Linked DNA regions of Homo sapiens: region 1 is linked to region 2. The links come from fine-mapping of genetic effects on gene expression. A gene starts in region 2. The other region holds a variant in brackets. All regions are shown on one strand. Distances are between the middles of the regions.

Region 1 (9,749 bases), 58 kb after region 2:
TGGGATTGTCTTCCTGATTTGGCTCTCGGCTTGGATTTTGTTAGTGTATAGGAATGCTACTCATTTTTGTATGTTGATTTTGTATCCTGGAACTTTGCTGAAGCTGTTTATTAGACCTACGAGCTTTTGGGTAGAGACGTGGGGGTTTTCTAGGTATGCAATCAAATTGTCTGCAAAGATAGATAGTTTGACTTCCTCTCTTCCTATCTAGGTGCCTTTTATTTCATTCTCTTGCCTGCTTGCTCATGCTAGCAGTACTCTGTTGAATAGGAGTGCTAAGAGTGGGCATCCCTGTATTTTTCCAGTTCTCAAGGGGAAATCTTTCAGCTTTCGCCCATTCAGTATGATGTTGACCTTGGGTTTATCATAGATGGCTCTTATTATCTGGAGGTATGTTCCTTCAATATCTAGTTTGTTGAGGATTTTTAACATTAATGGATGTTGAATTTTATCAAAAGCCTTTTCTGTATCTATTGAGATGATCACGTGGTTTCAGTTTTAAGTTCTGCTTATGTGGTGAATCACATTTATTGATTTGTGTATGTTGAACCAACAGAAACAAGAATTTTATAAAGGAATGGGAAATGAGAATTTGGCTGTGGGACATAAATTGGAAGCTCTAGCAGGCATGGCTTGCCTGGCTACAAGAGGCCAGGGTAGGTGGGGTTGCCTACCTTGCCTGAATGTTTCCCAGGACAACAGGAGGCTGTGCTCTCTGGCTGAATTCAGACAGAAGTGGAACCACTGGGATGGAAGCTCTAGCAAGTGTTGCCTGCCTGGCAACCAGTGGCAGGGGTAGATGTAGTCACCTGTCTTGCCCTCCAGGTGCTTCCTGGGAGAACAGGAGGCTATGGTCACTGGCTGAGTTCAGACAGAGAAGTAGGACCAGTAGGCTGGAAGCTGGCACCAAGCCCCATCCAGAAAGGGTTTGAGATGGGGCAATCTTACTGCTCCTAGGCACTGGGACTGCAGCCTTTATTGGGCTATGGCACCAGTGCTGGTCTTCTTGGGGGCACAAGGCTTGCAGAAGTCTCCTTGGACTAGAGAGTTGCCCTCCAAAATGTCTGGGGGGCTCTCTGCCTCAGTCTAGAAGCACGGTGGTGGGGTCGGGGGTGGGCAGGGGTTTCAGGGGCATTCTCCCATTTCCAGTCTTGCACAGGTCCCTGTCGAGAGTGTGAATCCCCTAGGGGGTTCTCACTCACTCACCCTTTCCAGTGTTGGAGAAATTCTCCTGGATCCACGCTGAGCCCGGACAGGCTGGTATCTAGCTTCACCCCTTTCTGCTCTCTGTAATCCCCTTACATCTTGAAGGATCCCGAATCCCTGACATGATTTCTCAGATGATTGGCCTGCAGGGTCAATGCTCACTAGCCCTTTTGTTTCCTTTCCGTGATAGCCTGGCACATGAGTTGCTTCTAGTTTACCATCTTAACCCCGAGCTCGAAACTGCATTTTTTAAAATTTTACTTTAAGTTCTAGGATACATGTGCACAACACGCAGGTTTGTTACATATGTATACTTGTGCCATGTTGGTGTGCTGCACCCATTAACTCGTCATTTACATTAGGTATATCTCCTAATGCTAACCCTCCTCCCTCCCCCTACCCCATGACAGGCCCCAGTGTGTGATGCTCCCCATCCTGTGTCCAGTTGTTCTTATTGCTCAGTTCCGACTTATGAGTGAGAACATGCGGTGTTTGGTTTTCTGTCCTTGCGATAGTTTGCTCAGAATGATGGTTTCCAGCTTCATCCATGTCCCTACAAAGGACATGAACTCATCCTTTTTTATGGCTGCATAGTATTCCATGGTGTATATGTGCCACATTTTCTTAATCCAGTCTATCATTGATGGACATTTGGGTTGGTTCCAAGTCTTTGCTATTGTGAATAGTGCTGCAATAAACATACGTGTACATGTGTCTTTATAGCAGCATGATTTATAATCCTTTGGATATATACCCAGTAATGGGATGGCTGGGTCAAATGGTATTTCTAGTTCTAGATCCTTGAGGAATCGCCACACTGTCTTCCACAATGGTTGAACTAGTTTACAGTCCTACCAACAGTGTAAAAGTGTTCCTATTTCTCCACATCCTCTCTAGCACCTGTTGTTACTGACTTTTTAATGATGGCCATTCTAACGGGTGTGAGATGGCATCTCATTGTGGTTTTGATTTGCATTTCTCTGATGGCCAGTGATAATGAGCTCTTTTTCATGTGTCTGTTGGCTGCATAAATGTCTTCTTTTGAGAAGTGTCCATTCATAGCCTTTGCCCACTTTTTGATGGGGTTGTTTGATTTTTTTCTTGTAAATTTGTTTAAGTTTTTTGTAGATTCTGGATATTAGTCCTTTGTCAGATGGGTAGATTGTAAAAATTTTCTCCCACTCTGTAGGTTGCCTGTCCACTCTGATGGTAGTTTCTTTTGCTGTGCAGAAGCTCTTTAGTTTAATTAGATCCCATTTGTCAATTTTGGCTTTTGTTGCCATTGCTTTTGGTGTTTTAGACATGAAGTCCTTGCCCATGCCTATGTCCTGAATGGTATTGCCTAGGTTTTCTTCTAGGGTTTTTATGGTTTTAGGTCTAACATTTAAATCTTTAATCCATCTTGAATTAATTTTTGTATAAGGTGTAAGGAAGGGATCCAGTTTCAGCTTTCTACATATGGCTAGCCAGTTTTCCCAGCACCATTTATTAAATAGGGAATCCTTTCCCCATTGCTTGTTTTTGTCAGGTTTGTCAAAGATCAGATGGTTGTAGATGTGTGGTATTATTTCTGAGGGCTCTGTTCTGTTCCATTGGTCTATATCTCTGTTTTGGTACCAGTACCATGCTGTTTTGGTTACTGTAGCCTTGTAGTATAGTTTGAAGTCAGGTAGTGTGATGGCTCCAGCTTTGTTCTTTTGGCTTAGGATTGTCTTGGCAATGCAGGCTCTATTTTGGTTCCATATGAACTTTAAAGTAGTTTTTTCCAATTCTGTGAAGAAAGTCATTGGTAGTTTGATGGGGATGGCATGAATCTATAAATTACCTTGGGCAGTATGGCCATTTTCACGATATTGATTCTTCTTATCCATGAGCATGGAATGTTCTTCCATTTGTTTGTGTCCTCTTTTATTTCATTGAGCAGTGGTTTGTAGTTCTGCTTGAAGAGGTCCTTCACATCCCTTGTAAGTTGGATTCCTGGGTATTTTATTCTCTTTGAAGCAATTGTGAATGGGAGTTCACTCATGATTTGGCTCTCTGTTTGTCTGTTATTGGTGTATAGGAATGCTTGTGATTTTTGCACATTGATTTTGGATCCTGAGACTTTGCTGAAGTTGCTTATCAGCTTAAGGAGCTTTTGGGCTGAGACTATGGGGTTTTCTAAATATACAATCATGTCATCTGCACACAGGGACAATTTGACTTCCTCTTTTCCTAATTGAATACCCTTTATTTCTTTCTCCTGCCTGATTGCCCTGGCCAGAACTTCCAACACTGTTTTGAATAGGAGTGTTGAGAGAGGGCATCCCTGTCTTGTGCCAGTTTTCAAAGGGAATACTTCCAGTTTTTGCCCATTCAGTATGATATTGGCTGTGGGTTTGTCATAAATAGCTCTTATTATTTTGAGATATGTCCCATCAATACCTAGTTTATTGAGAGTTTTTAGCATGAAGGGCTACTGAATTTTGTTAAAGGCCTTTTCTGCATCTATTGAGATAATCATGTGGTTTTTGTCTTTGGTTCTGTTTTTATGCTGGATTACATTTATTAATTTGCATATGTTGAACCAGCCTTGCATCCCAGTGATGAAGCTAACTTGATCATGGTGGATAAGCTTTTTGATGTGCTGCTGGATTCAGTTTGCCAGTATTTTATTGAGGATATTTGCATTGCATCGATGTTCATCAGGGGTATTGGCCTGATATTCTCTTTTTTTGTTGTGTTTCTGCCAGGCTTTGGTATCAGGATGATGCTGGCCACATCAAATGAGTTAGGGAGGATTCCCTCTTTTTCTATTGATTGGAATAGTTTCAGAAGGAATGGTACCAGCTCGTCTTTGTACCTCTGGTAGAATTCAGTTGTGAATCCATCTGGTCATGGACTTTTTTTGGTTGGTAGGCTATTAATTATTGCCTCAATTTCAGACCCTGTTATTGGTCTATTCAGGAATTCAACTTCTTCCTGGTTTAGTCTTGGGAGGGTGTATGTGTCCATGAATTTATCCATTTCTTCTAGATTTTCTAGTTTATTTGCATAGAGGTGTTTATAGTATTCTCTGATGATAGTTTGTATTTCTGTGTGATTGGTGGTGATATCCCCTTTATCATTTTTAATTGCATCTATTTGATTCTTCTCTCTTTTCTTCTTTATTAGTCTTGCTAGTGGTCTATCAATAATGTTGATCCTTTCAAAAAATCAGTTCCTGGATTCATTGATTTTTTTGAAGGGTTTTTTGTCTCTATCTCCTTCAGTTCTGCTCTGATCTTAGTTATTTCTTGCCTTCTGCTAGCTTTTGAATGTGTTTGCTCTTGCTTCTCTAGTTCTTTTAATTGTAATATTAGGTGTCAATTTTAGATCTTTCCTGCTTTCTCTTGTGGGCATTTAGTGCTATAAATTTCCCTCTATACACTGCTTTAAATATGTCCCAGAGATTCTGGTGTGTTGTGTCTTTGTTCTCATTGGTTTCAAAGAACATCTTTATTTCTGCCTTCATTTTCTTATGTACCCAGTAGTCATTCAGGAGCACGTTGTTCAGTTTCCATGTAGTTGAGCAGTTTTGAGTGAGTTTCTTAATCCTGAGTTCTAGTTTGATTGCACTGTGGTCTGAGAGACAGTTTGTTATAATTTCTGTTCTTTTACATTTGCTGAGGAGTGCTTTACTTCCAACTATGTGGTCAGTTTTGGAATAAGTGCAATGTGGTGCTGAGAAGAATGTATATTCTGTTGATTTGGGGTGGAGAGTTCTGTAGATGTCTATTAGGTCTGCTTGGTGCAGAGCTGAGTTCAACTCCTGGATATCCTTGTTAACTTTCTGTCTCGTTGATCTGTCTAATGTTGACAGTGGGGTGTTAAAGTCTCCTGTTATTATTGTTTGGGAGTCTACATCTTTTTGTAGGTCTCTAAGGACTTGCTTTATGAACCTGGGTGCTCCTGTGTTGGGTGCATATATATTTAGGATAGTTAGCTCTTCTTGTTGAATTGATCCCTTTACCATTATGTAATGGCCTTCTTTGTCTCTTTTGATCTTTGTTGGTTAAAGTCTGTTTTATCAGAGACT[A/G]GGATTGCAACCCTGCTTTTTTTATTTTCCATTTGCTTGGTAGATCTTCCTCTATCCCTTTATTTTTAGCCTATGTGTGTCTCTGCCATGAGATGGCTCTCCTGAATACAGCACACTGATGGTTCTTGACTCTTTAGCCAATTTGCCAGTCTGTGTCTTTTAATTGGGGTATTTAGCCCATTTACATTTAAGGTTAATATTGTTATGTGTGAATATGATCCTGTCCTTATCATGTTAGCTGGTTATTTTGCTCGTTAGCTGATGCCGTTTCTTCCTAGCACCGATGGTCTTTACACTTTGACATGTTTTGCAGTGGCTGGTACCGGTTGTTCCTTTCCATGTTTAGTGCTTCCTTCAGGAGCTCTTGTAAGGCAGGCCTGGTGGTGACAAAATCTCTCAGCCTTTGCTTGTCTGTAAAGGATTTTATTTCTCCTTCACTTATGAAGCTTAGTTTGGCTGGATATGAAATTCTGGGTTGAAAATTCTTCTCTTTAAGAATGTTGAATATTGGCCCCCACTCTCTTCTGGCTTGTAGAGTTTCTGCCGAGACATCTGCTGTTAGTCTGATGGGCTTCCCTTTGTGGGTAACCTGACCCTTCTCTCTGGCTGCCTTTAACATTTTTTCCTTCATTTCAACTTTGGTGAATCTGCTAATTATGTGTCTTGGAATTGCTCTTCTCGAGGAATATCTTTGTGGCGTTCTCCGTATTTCCTGAATTTGAATGTTAGCCTCCCTTGCTAGGTTGGGGAAGTTCTCCTGCATAATATCCTGCAGAGTGTTTTCCAACTTGGTTCCATTCTCCGTGTCACTTTCAGGTACACCAGTCAGATGTATGTTTGGTCTTTTCACATAGTCCCATATTTCTTGGAGGCTTTGTTCATTTCTTTTTACTCTTTTTTCTCTAAACTTCTCTTCTCACTTCATTTCATTCATTTGATCTTCAATCACTAATACCCTTTCTTCCAGTTGATGAATTGGCTACTGAAGGTTGTGCATGCGTCATATAGTTCTCATGCCATGGTTTTCAGCTCCATCACATCATTTAAGGTCTTCTCTACGCTCTTTATTCTAGTTAGCCATTCGTCGAATCTTTTTTCAAGGTTATTAGCTTCTTTGCCATGGGTTCAAACATCCTCCCTTAGCTCGAAGAAATTTGTTATTACCGATTGTCTGCAGCCTTCTTCTCTCAACTCATCAAAGTCATTCTCCGTCCAGCTTTGTTCCATTGCTGGCAAGCAGCTGCATTCCTTTGGAGGAGAAGAGGCACTCTGATTTTTTAGAATTTTCAGCTTTTCTGCTCTGGTTTCTCCCCATCTTTGTGGTTTTATCTACCTTTGGTCTTTGATGATGGTGACATACAGATGGGGTTTTGGTGTGGATGTCCTTTCTGTTTTTTAGTTTTCCTTCTAACAGTCAGGACCCTCAGCTGCAGGTCTGTTGGAGTTTGCTGGAAGTCCACTCCAGACCCTGTTTGCCTGGGTATCACCAGTGGAGGCTGCAGAAAGGCAAATGTTGCTGCCTGATCCTTTCTCTGGAAGCTTCATCGCAGAGGTGCACTCTGCCGTATGAGGTGTCAGTCAGCCCCTACTGGGAGGTGCCTTCCAGTTAGGCTACTCAGGGAGGAGTAACAGACTAACTCCCACTTGAGGAGGCAGTCTGTCCATTCTCAGATCTCAAACTCCGTGCTGGGAGAACCACTACTCTCTTCAAAGCTGTCAGACAAGGGTGTTTAAGTCTACAGAAGTTTCTGCTGCCTTTTGTTCAGCTATACCCTGCCCCAGAGGTGGAGTCTATAGAGGCAGGCAGGCCTCCTTGAGCTGTGGTGGGCTCCACCCAGTTTGAGCTTCCTAGCCACTTTGTTTACCTACTCAAGCCTCAGCAATGGTGGGCGCCCCTCCCCCAGCCTCACTGCTGCCTTGCAGTTCCATCTCAGACTGCTGTGCCAGCAGTGAGCAAGGCTCCCTGGGCATGGGACCCTCTGAGCCAGGAGCAGGATATAATCTCCTGGTGTTCTGTTTGCTAAGACCGTTGGAAAAGCGCAGTATTAGGGTGGGAGTGTCTCAATATTCCAAGTACCATCTGTCATGGCTTCCCTTGGCTAGGAAAGGGAATTCCCTGACTCCTTGCACTTCCCGGGTGAGGCGATGCCCCGCCCTGCTTTGGCCCACACTGTGTGGGCTGCACCCACTATCTGACAAGCCCCAGTGAGATGAACCCAGTACCTCAGTTGGAAATGCAGAAACTACCATCTTCTGCATCACTCATGCTGGGAGCTATAGACTGGAGCTGTTCCTATTTGGCCATCTTGGAACCTCCTCTGAAACTGCATTTTTAATAATGTCTCTAGGAGATTCTGATGTAGGGGTTTCTGGGAGCCGGTTATATGAAAGACTTCCAAAATGTTTTGTAAAAAAAATAGTAGTTTTAGTATACATATGTAACTAACCTGCACAATGTGCACATGTACCCTAAAACTTAAAGTATAATAAAAAAAAATAGTAGTTTTGTCCAGTAAATTGTCCCCCAGAAGTAAATTTAGACCTAGAGACCTAGATTTAATTATCTCTGTTTACTTTACTAGTTCTCGAATTTTCCAGGGGCCATATCATTGAGCCAGAATTTCCTTTTTGCCTCACACTAAACATACGAAGCCAGGCCCTGGAGGGATCTGTGAGCTGTTTAGCTTTCCAAGCTCTGGATAATAATTTAGTTTACCCAGCTGTAAAATGGGCAAAAGTAATACACATATTATTGTTTAATGGATGGATTATATATTTATGCTTTGAGCTCTGAAGGAGTTGATACTACCCTGAGAGGTTTTTTTTTTCTTTTCATTTTTATAATACTTCCCAACCATGATGTAAATATTCATAAAAACCTAGGGAGTATAGTTGTCATGACTAATTTGATAATGAAGGAATTGTTAGCTAGAAGCGTTTCCTCCATCCTGTAGCTGCACAAAGCAGAGACTCTTGTGTAGCAAAATTAACATGACATATGGTGTTTCCAACAACAGAGTCTCATGAGATACTTCGAGTTCAGAGGTTGTTATAGTCTAAGAAAGAAACCTGCAACTTGGAAAAGTCTAATTCTGATTGGTTGTTTAACTTAACAATTTGTTATCTTGGTGATAATAAAGTGACATATCTTTATAAAAGGTACATATATTTGTGATATCATAAATGGTATAAATACCATCCTTATACCCAGTTAGAAGGTGCCTTTGGCCCCGTGCTTTAGAGGGTCCCATATATCACAGATACAAACATGTAAAATTTTGAAAGAACAAATAGCACCTCTGTTACTCAGAATCCAGTGCTTAATTCTGGTAGAATTGGACTTGAAACCCTAAACATCCAGCCCAGGGAAAAGTTGCCTATCTTCCCTTCTTTGCTCACAATGAATGGAGATTATATCATGCATGTTTGTGCATTGTGAGGGAGCTGATTTTTAGAGACAGATTCTGCTTTGGAGTTCAGAGAGGATTGTAGCAATAAAGATCAGAGAAAAGGCAAATTCAGCAAACTGCTCAAAGACTGTCTTTCACCAGAATGCAATAGATTCTTATGTAATGAATAATTATTTTTCCAGTACAGTAGGACCTATTGTCCATTTTCTTGCTTTTCTTTTTGTTCTAATTCCTGGCTCAAAAAGTACTCATGAATTAGCAGTATTTGCAACAGTTGCACATGGTGACTGAATAACATTCTGCATCATTAAGAAATTCATACTATTCTTTTTTTTCTTTTTGACAGAGTCTCGCTCTGTAGCCAGGCTGGAGTGCAGTGGCACAATCTCGGCTCACTGCAACCTTCACCTCCTGGGTTCAAGAAATTCACCTGCCTCAGCCTCCCGAATAGTTGGGACTGCAGGTACCCACCACCATACCCACCTAATTTTTGTATTTTTAGTGGAGATGGGGTTTCACCATGTTGGCCAGGATGGTCTCGATCTCTAAACCTCGTGATCCACCCGCCTTGGCCTCCCAAAGTGTTGGGATTAGAGGCGTAAGCCACTGCGCTCGGGCATAAATTCACATTATTCTTAAACTTGTACACATGCAGATTTGAACTTACATATGGAGTCAAATTCTCTTCTGTATTTGGACTCTTTCTTTGTGCCAATTTGCCAATCAGTAAGGTTCCTGCGTATGAGTATTTAAATATAAAATCAGATGGGACCAGATTTTCATAGCACACCCAACTCAGAAAATAGAATACATAACTTATCTAACATATCTACCGAATGTGAAAGCAATGACAGTATTCAAAATGCTACTAATAAGGATACAACACAATGAAAACAAACTTAGAAGTAAAAATAGATAACAAAAGAAAAATTTTCTTTATTATATTTGGAATAAGAGTGCCCATTTTTAACAGCTATAATAAAATATAATTCACATATCATATAATCCACTCATTTAAAGTATACAATTCAATAGCTTTCATTATATTCACAGTTATGCAACCAGCACCACAATCA
Region 2 (9,699 bases):
TCACCACCCCTACAGAAGATGGAATCGGGAAGAGTTTTTGACCCAAATCGTCCACTCATGCCCCGTGGAGCTTGTGCTATGATGAGAACAGACACTACCCAGGGAAAATAATCCACACAGACTTCCATTACTCTAGAGCTGCTGGAATATTTGAAGATAAGCCATTCCAAGCTTTCTAAATATGTACCCAATCTCAGCATCTCAGCTGCTAGCCCACCCAGCACATTTGTGAGCAGTAGAAAGAGATCAGTCTTCCTCTGAGTGATCTAATCATGGCCATGCATTGATAGGTGGAAAAAAGTATACTAGATTTTGGCTTTCACTGAGATTGTAGAATTTCAAGTGCACAATTTACACAATCTTACAAGGCTGCCCTGCCAAGTTCCAGAAGAGAATTATTGCTCTTTCTTATAGGTGGTTGTTCATCAACATGTATCTTCTTGACTTGGGCCCTGGGAAGACTAAGGAGTAGAATATCACCCTAGAGGTGTCCTCACTCTCTAAAATGGAAATGCTGAGAGCCTAAAGTCCTCCTTTTATCTGGTGAGCATACAGAAAGTGCTGTTATTAGTAGTATACATATTATCATCAAATTAGGCCCCAGCGTGGTGGCTAATGCCTGTAATCCCAACACTTTGAGAGTCCAAGGCAGGTGAATTGCTTGAGCCCAGGAGTTCACGACCAGCATGGGCAACATAGCGAAACCATGTCTCTCAAAAAATACAAAAATTAGCCGGGCCTGGCGATGCACACCAGTAGTCCCAGCGACTTGGGCTGACGTGGGAGGATCACCTGAGCCCGGGCAGGTGGAGGCTGCAGTGAGCTGTGATCATGCCACTGCACTCCAGACTGGGTGACAGAGGGAGGCCCTGTCTGGAAAAAAAAAAAAAAAAAGATGAGTTTGTGCATGTATGTAGTGACCTAATCCCTGTATGCCTGTGGCAGACAGGGACTCGTCACCATGTTTTGTGAGGCATTTCCCTGGATCTTGTCCACTTAAGCTCCACTTAAGCTGTCTTGATCAATAAGCATGAATGGAAGGAGGAGCTCAATCTGCTCCTCTGTCCCTGAACCAGTGGGATCAGGAGGATTTTGATGTGGGCATTATTCAGTCTGGGATAGTCCAGATTCCCCTTAGGCCACCTCAGGTCAGTGGCTTCTAGAAACATACGCCCAGGCCATTGCAAAACCTCTCACATAGACTAGCTACCAAGGCAGCAGGGAATGAAAGGCTTGCTTTCTGTCAACTCCACAGATGCAGACACAACTAATACCTTTTGTTTTTTTTTTTTTTTGAGACGGAGTCTCACTCTGTTGCCCAGGCTGGAGTGCAGTGGTGCAATCTCGGCTCACTTCAAGCTCCGCCTCCCAGGTTCACGCCATTCTCCTGCCTCAGCCTCCTGAGTAGCTGGGACTACAGGCGCCCGCCACCACTCCCGGCTAATTTTTTGTATTTTTTAGAAGAGGCGGGGTTTCACCTTGTTAGTCAGGATGGTCTTGATCTCCTGACCTCGTGATCTGCCCATCTCGGCCTCCCAAAGTGCTGGGATTACAGGTGTGAGCCACCATGCCCAGCCACAACTAACATCTTATGACCAGGAGCCCGTTATATTAAAAAGAGAGACTTGGGTACTCTTGTGGTGAATTTTTTTGCAATCCTTCATTTATAATTTCTTCTCAAGACAGGTCTACATGTTTGCTAGAAAGGGATCTCAAAAGAGCAGCCCCTTTTTCTGTAAAGTTCTTCCTCTCCCACTGACTGCAACATCAGATGGGAGAACTCTAGCAGGTCAGAATACTTTTGAGTGAAAGCATTTTCTGCAGGTCACCAGTTCTAACTACACCAGGAAAAAAAGAAATATATATTTTGTGGAACAAACATATCACAATGCCTACAAAATTTCTTATTTTCTAACATCTAGTATAATGGTTTTTCAAATTTTAGCAGGCAACATGATCACCTGGAAAACTTATAACACACAGATTGATGGGCCCCACCCTAGAGTTTCTGAGTCAGCAGGTTTAGGGTAGGGCCTGAGAATTTGCATTTCTGCTACCTTCCCAAGTGATGCTGATGTTGCTAGTCAGGGGACCACACTTTGAGAACAGTTAATTCAGTGAAAAGCAAATTTCATAGTAATCACAATTTCATAGTTTCACAGTAATCACAAAATTTGACTTGGTATCAAAAACAAACAAACAACAGAAAAACAGCCATCTCTGAAAGTAGCTTCTTTTTCCCACGTGAATTTAACCAATTTATCAAATAAAAATAGCTGCTTCTTCTCACCTGGATGCCTAAAAGAGTATTTTGTATATTAAAAGGATCTCAATGCTCTTGCCCTGACTGGTCCCCGGGCCAGTCTCCTCTCTAGGCTCAGGCCTCTGTTCCCTGGTGAACAGTCTTTAAGTGTTGCCTGGGTAATTGTCCCTCTATTAGAAAGTGCTACAGAAATGACATCTTTGGAAATAAGATTGCTTTCTCGTTTATTTCCTTAAGAGCATTGCTGCTTTTATTAAGCCAGCTACCCTTACTAAGCGAGCTCTGTAACAGGAGTTAGGAAACTTGCCTCTACATATATTCTCATCTTGCCCCTCTGAATCTACTTTCCTACATTCTTCACCATGCTCTGTGCTTGGAAGCTGACTCTATGGACTTTATTAACTCCAAAACTCTTTTATTTTTTACTTTCTACTGGGGTTGGCCCACTGGGGAGCACCAGCCAGATATTAAATTGCAGGAGGAGGTGAAGGTCATGGAATTAATTCCTAAGCTCCCACTGTGCTCTGCTTGAGGTTGTCAGTGATTTTTTCACCAAAGGCCTCTTGAGAAGCCCCTCCCCTACAGCTATAGCTTAGAGTCTCCTTGGGTCTGGTTCTCTCCTCTTGCTCCTGTAGGCCCAGGGTTATCATGTTACCACTGTTGTAAACCAACACGCCTCTTCCCGCTGCCCTGCAACCAACAAGCACCATTTCCTGTTGATTTCCCTAAACTTTGCCCATATCGTCTTAAATAGCCCCCTTATTAAACTCTTCTTGGTTATCATGTTGAGGGTGCCTATCAGGGTCAGAACCACCAGTGGGACAGCTCCCTTAGGAGAAGGCCTGTCAAAAAATTGGCCCTTAAGGAAAGTTTTAGAATTTCAAAGTGTGCAGAAATAAGGTCAGTGAAGCAGAGAAAGACTTTACCTCATGGTGCTATGAAGATAGCAGGTGATCTGTAGTGCTTTGGTTCAGGCTTGGAGGCTCCTTCAAGGTTCATCCACAGAGTTCTAGGGCTTCTCAGATAAGCATGGTGCTTATATATGGGAGGTATATCCAGGCAGTTTTTTACACCCTTGATGCCTAGTGAATTGGCAGGGTGAAAATGATACAGAGGAATAGGGCTGTCTCTGCTTTGATTACAAATACATGCTGAGTTTTGGCAGCTAAGAGGATGGGTGTGTGAGAAGCAGTTTTGATACGCAAATTCCCTTGCTGGAGTCAATGTGGTGTAGGAGATAGAGGGTAACTGGACTTTATGATGACATTCAGTGTTGTGGAAAAACCAGTGGCAGACAGGAACGTATATTTTTGTGAATCATGTCAGACTCTGTTGTCAAACTTGTTACTATCACATGTATCCCGCCAGGTGGTTCCAGGGACGTCTACAATGGAAGCTCCTTAGACCAGGGTCAGTGGTTTGTGCCTAAAAGAATACTGTAGAAAGTCATTGTCAATTTGTGGAAGAATGAGGTTGCAGATGGTTAGGTCTTCTTCTGTGGGGCTGTGTTAGGCAAAACAACTCCTCAATTTTGAGATATTGGTCTATAAGAAGGGTCCCATACTGGTTACATCCTCCAGCAGCATTTGCATTACTGCCAACCCTGGCTATAGTGGAGCCTATTCAAGCATATTGACTGTTTTGATGATCTTTACTGTTCACCATTAGTGGTTCAAACAACAATGTTTGAGCTGGTCAGTAGAGAAACATATGCAATGTAGTCAGAGAATGTGATGGGGTCATGGGGGTTAAAAATCTAAATCCAAATTCACATAGTTCTTCTGAGTTGTCCTTATGTTTCTTCTGTTTCTACTATTTTGAAGATTATCTGTTACAAAGCAACAACCATCAGAGAGTCAATCAAACAATGTTCACATGTTTAATGAAAAATTTATATGATCCCAAGGCTGATGTAATTGCCCACACAATTAGCAGAGAAAAAGGAAAATTTGGAAAGCTGCTATTCTGAATTCCTCTTGTGAATTGTTACAATGTCATCCTGTACGTTTCTGGATCTTGGTTTTGTAGGGGTAGTGCACCAAGATAAGCAAAAGGGCAAAGACTGAGAGCGATTTCCCTCTGAGTGAGCATTTCAAGGTAGGGTTATTAACTTCATTACAGTCTTCTCATAATTACCAAATGAAACTGTAGCCTCGCTGTGCTATTTCTTCTTTGTCCTGGGCCTGTAACTAGACTATATTTCCCAGGCTCCCATGTGGTAAGGTGTGGTCATGGGCATGGGATGGGAGGCTGTCAGGAAGCAGAAATGATTCTATAATTGGGTATCTTAAATTGTGTCTGGAAAAAGAGAAGACTAGACCAAGGTGACAGGTGTAATTTGAAAGGAAGCAGCAGTCATTCATATTGGCCAGTTTAAGGGGCTGCTTGATTATTTTCGAATCCAGTTGGAAAATATTCGTATTTTTGTCTGCACTCAGACCTGATTACAGAGTGGCCTTGTATTTTGTCTTGACCCATCATGGTCACAGGTGTTAATGATGCTCTCAGATGTCTGGGGCAGCTCTTCTCTTTCTTTTCAGGGAACTTCTGAGTTACTGCTCCAGTTACTGCTCCTGACCTTTCTAAAGCCAAAAATTATATAGACAAGAAGGACTACCCAGAAAAGGAACGTCACATAAGATCTTATGCATTCACAGTTGAAATGAGAGCAGACATCTTAGGAAAAGAATATGCTTAAGAAAGAGTATAGTATATAATCTCTCTCTCTATGTGAATTAAAAACCCATCTCCACGTCTATTCAAGGAAGGATTTAGGCAACTTGAGATAGACCACATCTCCCCATTCGCATGAGACAAGTTCCTAGAAGAATGTGCTGGACCTCTTGACTTCTTCTTCTTTTTTTTTTTTTTTTTTTTTTAAGATAGAGTCTCGCTGTATCACCTAGGCTGGAGTACAGTGGCACTATCTCTGCTCACTGCAACCTCTGCCTCCCAGGTTCAAGTGATTCTCATGCCTCAGCCTCCAGAGTAGCTGGCACTACAGGTGTGCACCACCATACCCAGCTATTTTTTTGTATTTTTAGTAGAGATGGGGTTTCACCATGTTGGCCATCCTGGTTTCGAACTCCTGACCTCAGGTGATGCACCTGTGTTGGCCTCCTAAAGTGTGGGATTACAGGTGTGAGCCACTGCACCTGGCCCGTCTTGACATCTTACAAGCACAGGATATCATTTAGATCCATGTATTCTTCCATAAACCCACCAAATCTCAACATTACTTAAGTAATGAGAATCCCCATTTTATTCCTTGAGTATACTCTAATAATAAAAGTAGGCAGAAAAATTCTCTAAGCATAATGACAGCACAGAAATGGAGGTTAGAACCATTCAGGGGAATGAGGGAAAGGAAACTAGGCCCACGTAGCCCTGCTGTGGAAGACCAAGTTTGCTGAAAGGGAAGAATGATTGTTAGTCAAACATTGTTCCATCTGGGGTTGAGCAAACCAAGGCCATTAGAAAAAACCTTCTACACCTGTCAGGTGACAGAATCACCTGATGGAGGGGGTTCTGCACAGATATTTGCCATCTTGTTTATTTTGGGGTTGTGTACTCTGAGTATAAGACAATAGCACCCCATCATAGAACAACCATTATTCTATATTTGGGGCCAATGGGATGTTTTCTTCTGAGGTTTCCTTTCTTGCTCTGCAGCTTGGGCATAATGAGAACTATTAAAACCCTTTACCTTTACTTGTCTTTGTGCGCACAAGATGATGTTGCTCAGTAGTGAAGGCCACCTGGAATCAGACTACCTGGGGTCATTAATGGACTTTGCTGCTTACTGGACATGTGATCTTGGGATAGTTGGTTCACATTTCTAAGCCACATTTACTTACCCATGGAATCGGAATAGCACTAGGACTTTCGTCATGGGGTTATGTTGAGATGAAGTGGGATATTGCATGGAAAGCATGTCTCATTTAACAGCATTCAGTAATTGTGAGTGTTGCTTTCACAGTGTGGGACAAGTCCCCTTATCTGTGCAGTCTGTGCTGACCATTAGCTGGAGCCCTTCCAGACTACAATTTTTCCCAGTGGGCACTGAGAGAGAGGTGTTTCATGTCATATCTGACTGTGCAGCTGCTGAGATAGGGGTGTCCTGTTCTGAGCTTCAGGCCAGGGCAATCTACATATTCCCATCTCAGGCTCAGGTCAGGGAGCCCTGGCCATATCTACACATAGAGCCCAGCAGTACCTCTTGGGCAGCAGGCATTCAACCTCTCCCTAGTGAGGATGGACCTGTGTAGGGGGAGAAGAGATTTTGGAATGGGACTCATTTCCTCTCAGCTCTCTCTCTCCAGTTCTGTATCAGATGGGAAGCTTCTAGGAGGCCAATTGTGTTTTCAGATACAAATATCTTCTGTAAGGCACTAGCCCTGAATCAACTCTAAAAGGGATAGAAACATAAGCAAATACTGAAATGAACATTAGGAGAGCTGCTTACACTGAGAGTAGTATGACTTTGGAATTTTCATGCATAAAATTATTGCTAGTAACAGCGTGTCAGAGAAACAGAGTGAGTGTTTGTCATGTGGTCACTGAATTTGGCAGCAGTCCTGGTTCTGTGAGGCTCTGGCTCAACTGATTAGGTATTCAGGATCTGGCCCAGTGTGTCCTTGGATAAATACAGCCATGAACCACACAGGACAGAGCAACAATAAGGAAACAGCCAACACATTGTGTAAGAGAGAGAGAGAGAGAGTGTGTGTGTGTCTGTGTCTACAAATAGGAAAAAAACAATGGAAACTAGAGAGGGAAACTCATTTCTAATGGGCAGGATGCCTACTTGTAGAAATGAAACTTAAGCATTGGAGAAATAAAACTTAACCACTATCAACATTCCAGAACCAGCTCTGTGTTCGACGAACTAGCAGAGTGAACTTGATTTCACTTAAACACTGAGTTTCCTCATCAGGTATAGAAAAAGGTTGGCCTTGAACAGTGGTTTACAACCTTGGGCTGCAAGGTTGTAAAATTCCTTGGAAGTCTTTTAAAAATGCAGATGCCTGAGCCAATCTCCAGCCCAATCAATCAGAATCTCTGGAAGTGAAGCCCAGGCATGAGTATTATCAGTAAGTTTTCTGAAAAAAGTAATCCCAAAGTGATTTTTTTGTGCATGGTTTAAAACCACTAGACTAGATTTTTGCTACTCAGGATATGGTCTGTTACAGTGGCATCCTCAACTACTAAAAGCCCAGAAATGCAGAATATCAGGCCCCTCTACAGATCTCCTGAATGAGAACTTGCCTTTTAACATGTCCAGATGATTTGTTGGTACATTAAAGTTTCACAGATACTTTTCCAAATGATCCCTGGATCCCTTTCAGGTCCAAATGCTTTGGATCAGAGACTAATTCCTAATAAATACCTATTTTCTATGAGGCTCTGAGTCTAGAACTTTATTTTTCTATGCTTTGGTTTCCCCTTGTGCACCTTAATAATCCATGCAATACCAGAAAGGATGTAGGTCAAAGTGCACTGACCTCTACAGAGAGTGTCTGATGTTTGCTTTTGAGACTACTCATGTTTGCAAACTTGCACCAATCATGTCCACAGAGAAAATACTCAGCTACTAGGAACTTCTCTGCTCTGAAAGTCCTGGTAATCTTCATACCACCTCAGGGGTCTTGATGGCTATCTTTGGGCTACTCTGATTTACTTTTCTGGCTGACTCCCACGTGTTCCAGTTTTTTTTTTTTTTTTTTTTTTTTGAGAGGGAGTCTCGCTCTGTCGCCCAGGCTGGAGTGCAGTGGTGCAATCTTGGCTCACTGTAAGCTCTGCCTCCCGGGTTCACGCCATTCTCCTGCCTCAGCCTCCCGAGTAGCTGGGATTACAGGCACCCACCACCACGCCCGGCAAATGTTTTTTGTATTTTTAGTAGAGACGGGGTTTCACTGTGTTAGCCAGGATGGTCTCGATCTCCTGACCTCATGATCCGCCCGCCTCTGCCTCCCAAAGTGCTGGGATTACAGGCGTGAGCCACCGCGTCCGGCCCCACGTGTTCCAATTCTAACTGAATTTCTGTGCTTTCATTGTTTTACATGTCAAATATTCATTCACCTGGAATTGTCTATATAAATTGTAGGAAGCATTTACATCACTGAACTAGACTCAAGATATTTCATAGATCCTATAATGTCTATTGGAAAAGTCCTCAGGTTCCCGGAAAGCAAGTTGTTTTTAGACTGTCTGAAGTATCTTGGGACTTGAAAAGTCCATGTCTATAAAGGAAATGAGAAGAGGTGAAGATGTTTTCTAGATGCAATTGAAATTTAGGATTATACATTGAGCTGAAAAAAGAAGTTCAATGCCATTCCCATGGTTCTGGGAAACCCACAGAGGTTTAAGGAACCTGCGATCCAAACATATTGTTAGCATGGCCAAGGCAGACTTCATTGCTCTAAGCTCCTTGTCCATTTCTATAATCAGCAAGCTATGAATTATCATTAGGTACAGGCCAGGTACTCTGTTGGGACACATAGGGCATGTTTCCTCTTCTCAAGTGACCTGTCATGTAGCAGGAGACAGATTGATAAGCGCTTAATTTGCTTTTAATAAAAACAGTACACATTGGTTGCTTTGAAATAACAGAGAATTGGATGTTTATCTCTTCCTGAGGTTCATGAAAAACTTCCTCAGTTAACTTTTGGTCTTTAACCTGAAGTGTTTGGCAAAATCATAATCCTGTTGTCTCCCCCACTGGAAGAATACTTCCAAGACTGTCTAGTCTGTGAGCAGGTCTGACCCCAAAGGGTCCCTGTGGCTACTCTTGCAGTGTGCAATGATGCTGGCTGCACACACTAGGGGAAAGGCTTTGGTCTAGGACCATAAACCTGTTCTTGTATCTCAAGTCATGGTAATCCTGCAAAAGCAGATAAGACAGAATGTGCAACGGTGAAACTGCCAGCTGACTACCAAATTAGTACACCGGAGACGGGAAGTTTTCTGTGATAGGGGCCTCTATGAGGGGCTTCCTCCTACTCTCTACCCTCAAGTAGGTCCCATATTTGTGTTGTTCCCTTCTTTGTGTCCACATGTACTCAGTGTTTAGCTCCCACTGGTGAGTGAGAACATGCAGTATCTTGTTTTCTGTTTCCATGTTAGTTGACTTAGGATAATGGCCTCCAGCTCCATCCATGTTGCTGCAAAGGACACGATCTTGTCCTTTGGCTGCATAGTATTCATGCAACCAAAATTTAGAATCTTAAATTAGATGGGCTAAAAAGAACATAGATCAACACCCATGTTATTCCTATAGCTCTGAGAATTCCAAGGATGTTTAAGGTTCCAATGGTAAAAATAACTGGTCAGATGGTAGGCGATCTTTACAAGTAGTACTCACAAGCCTCCAAAGCAGCATTCATTGTCAGGGGCTTCTCATCAGTTCAAACGTTCAGCAAACCAGTAATGCTTAC

What was found.
Region 1: its variant is fine-mapped to the expression of IFIT1B in whole blood (TOPMed, PIP above 0.99).

What each region holds. Positions count from the first base shown.
Region 1 is chr10:89,313,930-89,323,678 of GRCh38, reverse strand. It overlaps a transcript of LIPA not described here. Among named protein-coding and RNA genes, the nearest start is that of IFIT3, 9.2 kb to the left of the region's middle. The variant A/G (reference allele first, on the strand shown) is at 5,264.
Region 2 is chr10:89,371,631-89,381,329 of GRCh38, reverse strand. IFIT1B (interferon induced protein with tetratricopeptide repeats 1B) reads right to left here and starts at 3,274. Exons shown (of 2, transcript NM_001010987.2): 1 at 3,190-3,274. The coding sequence starts at 3,194. It also overlaps a transcript of LIPA not described here.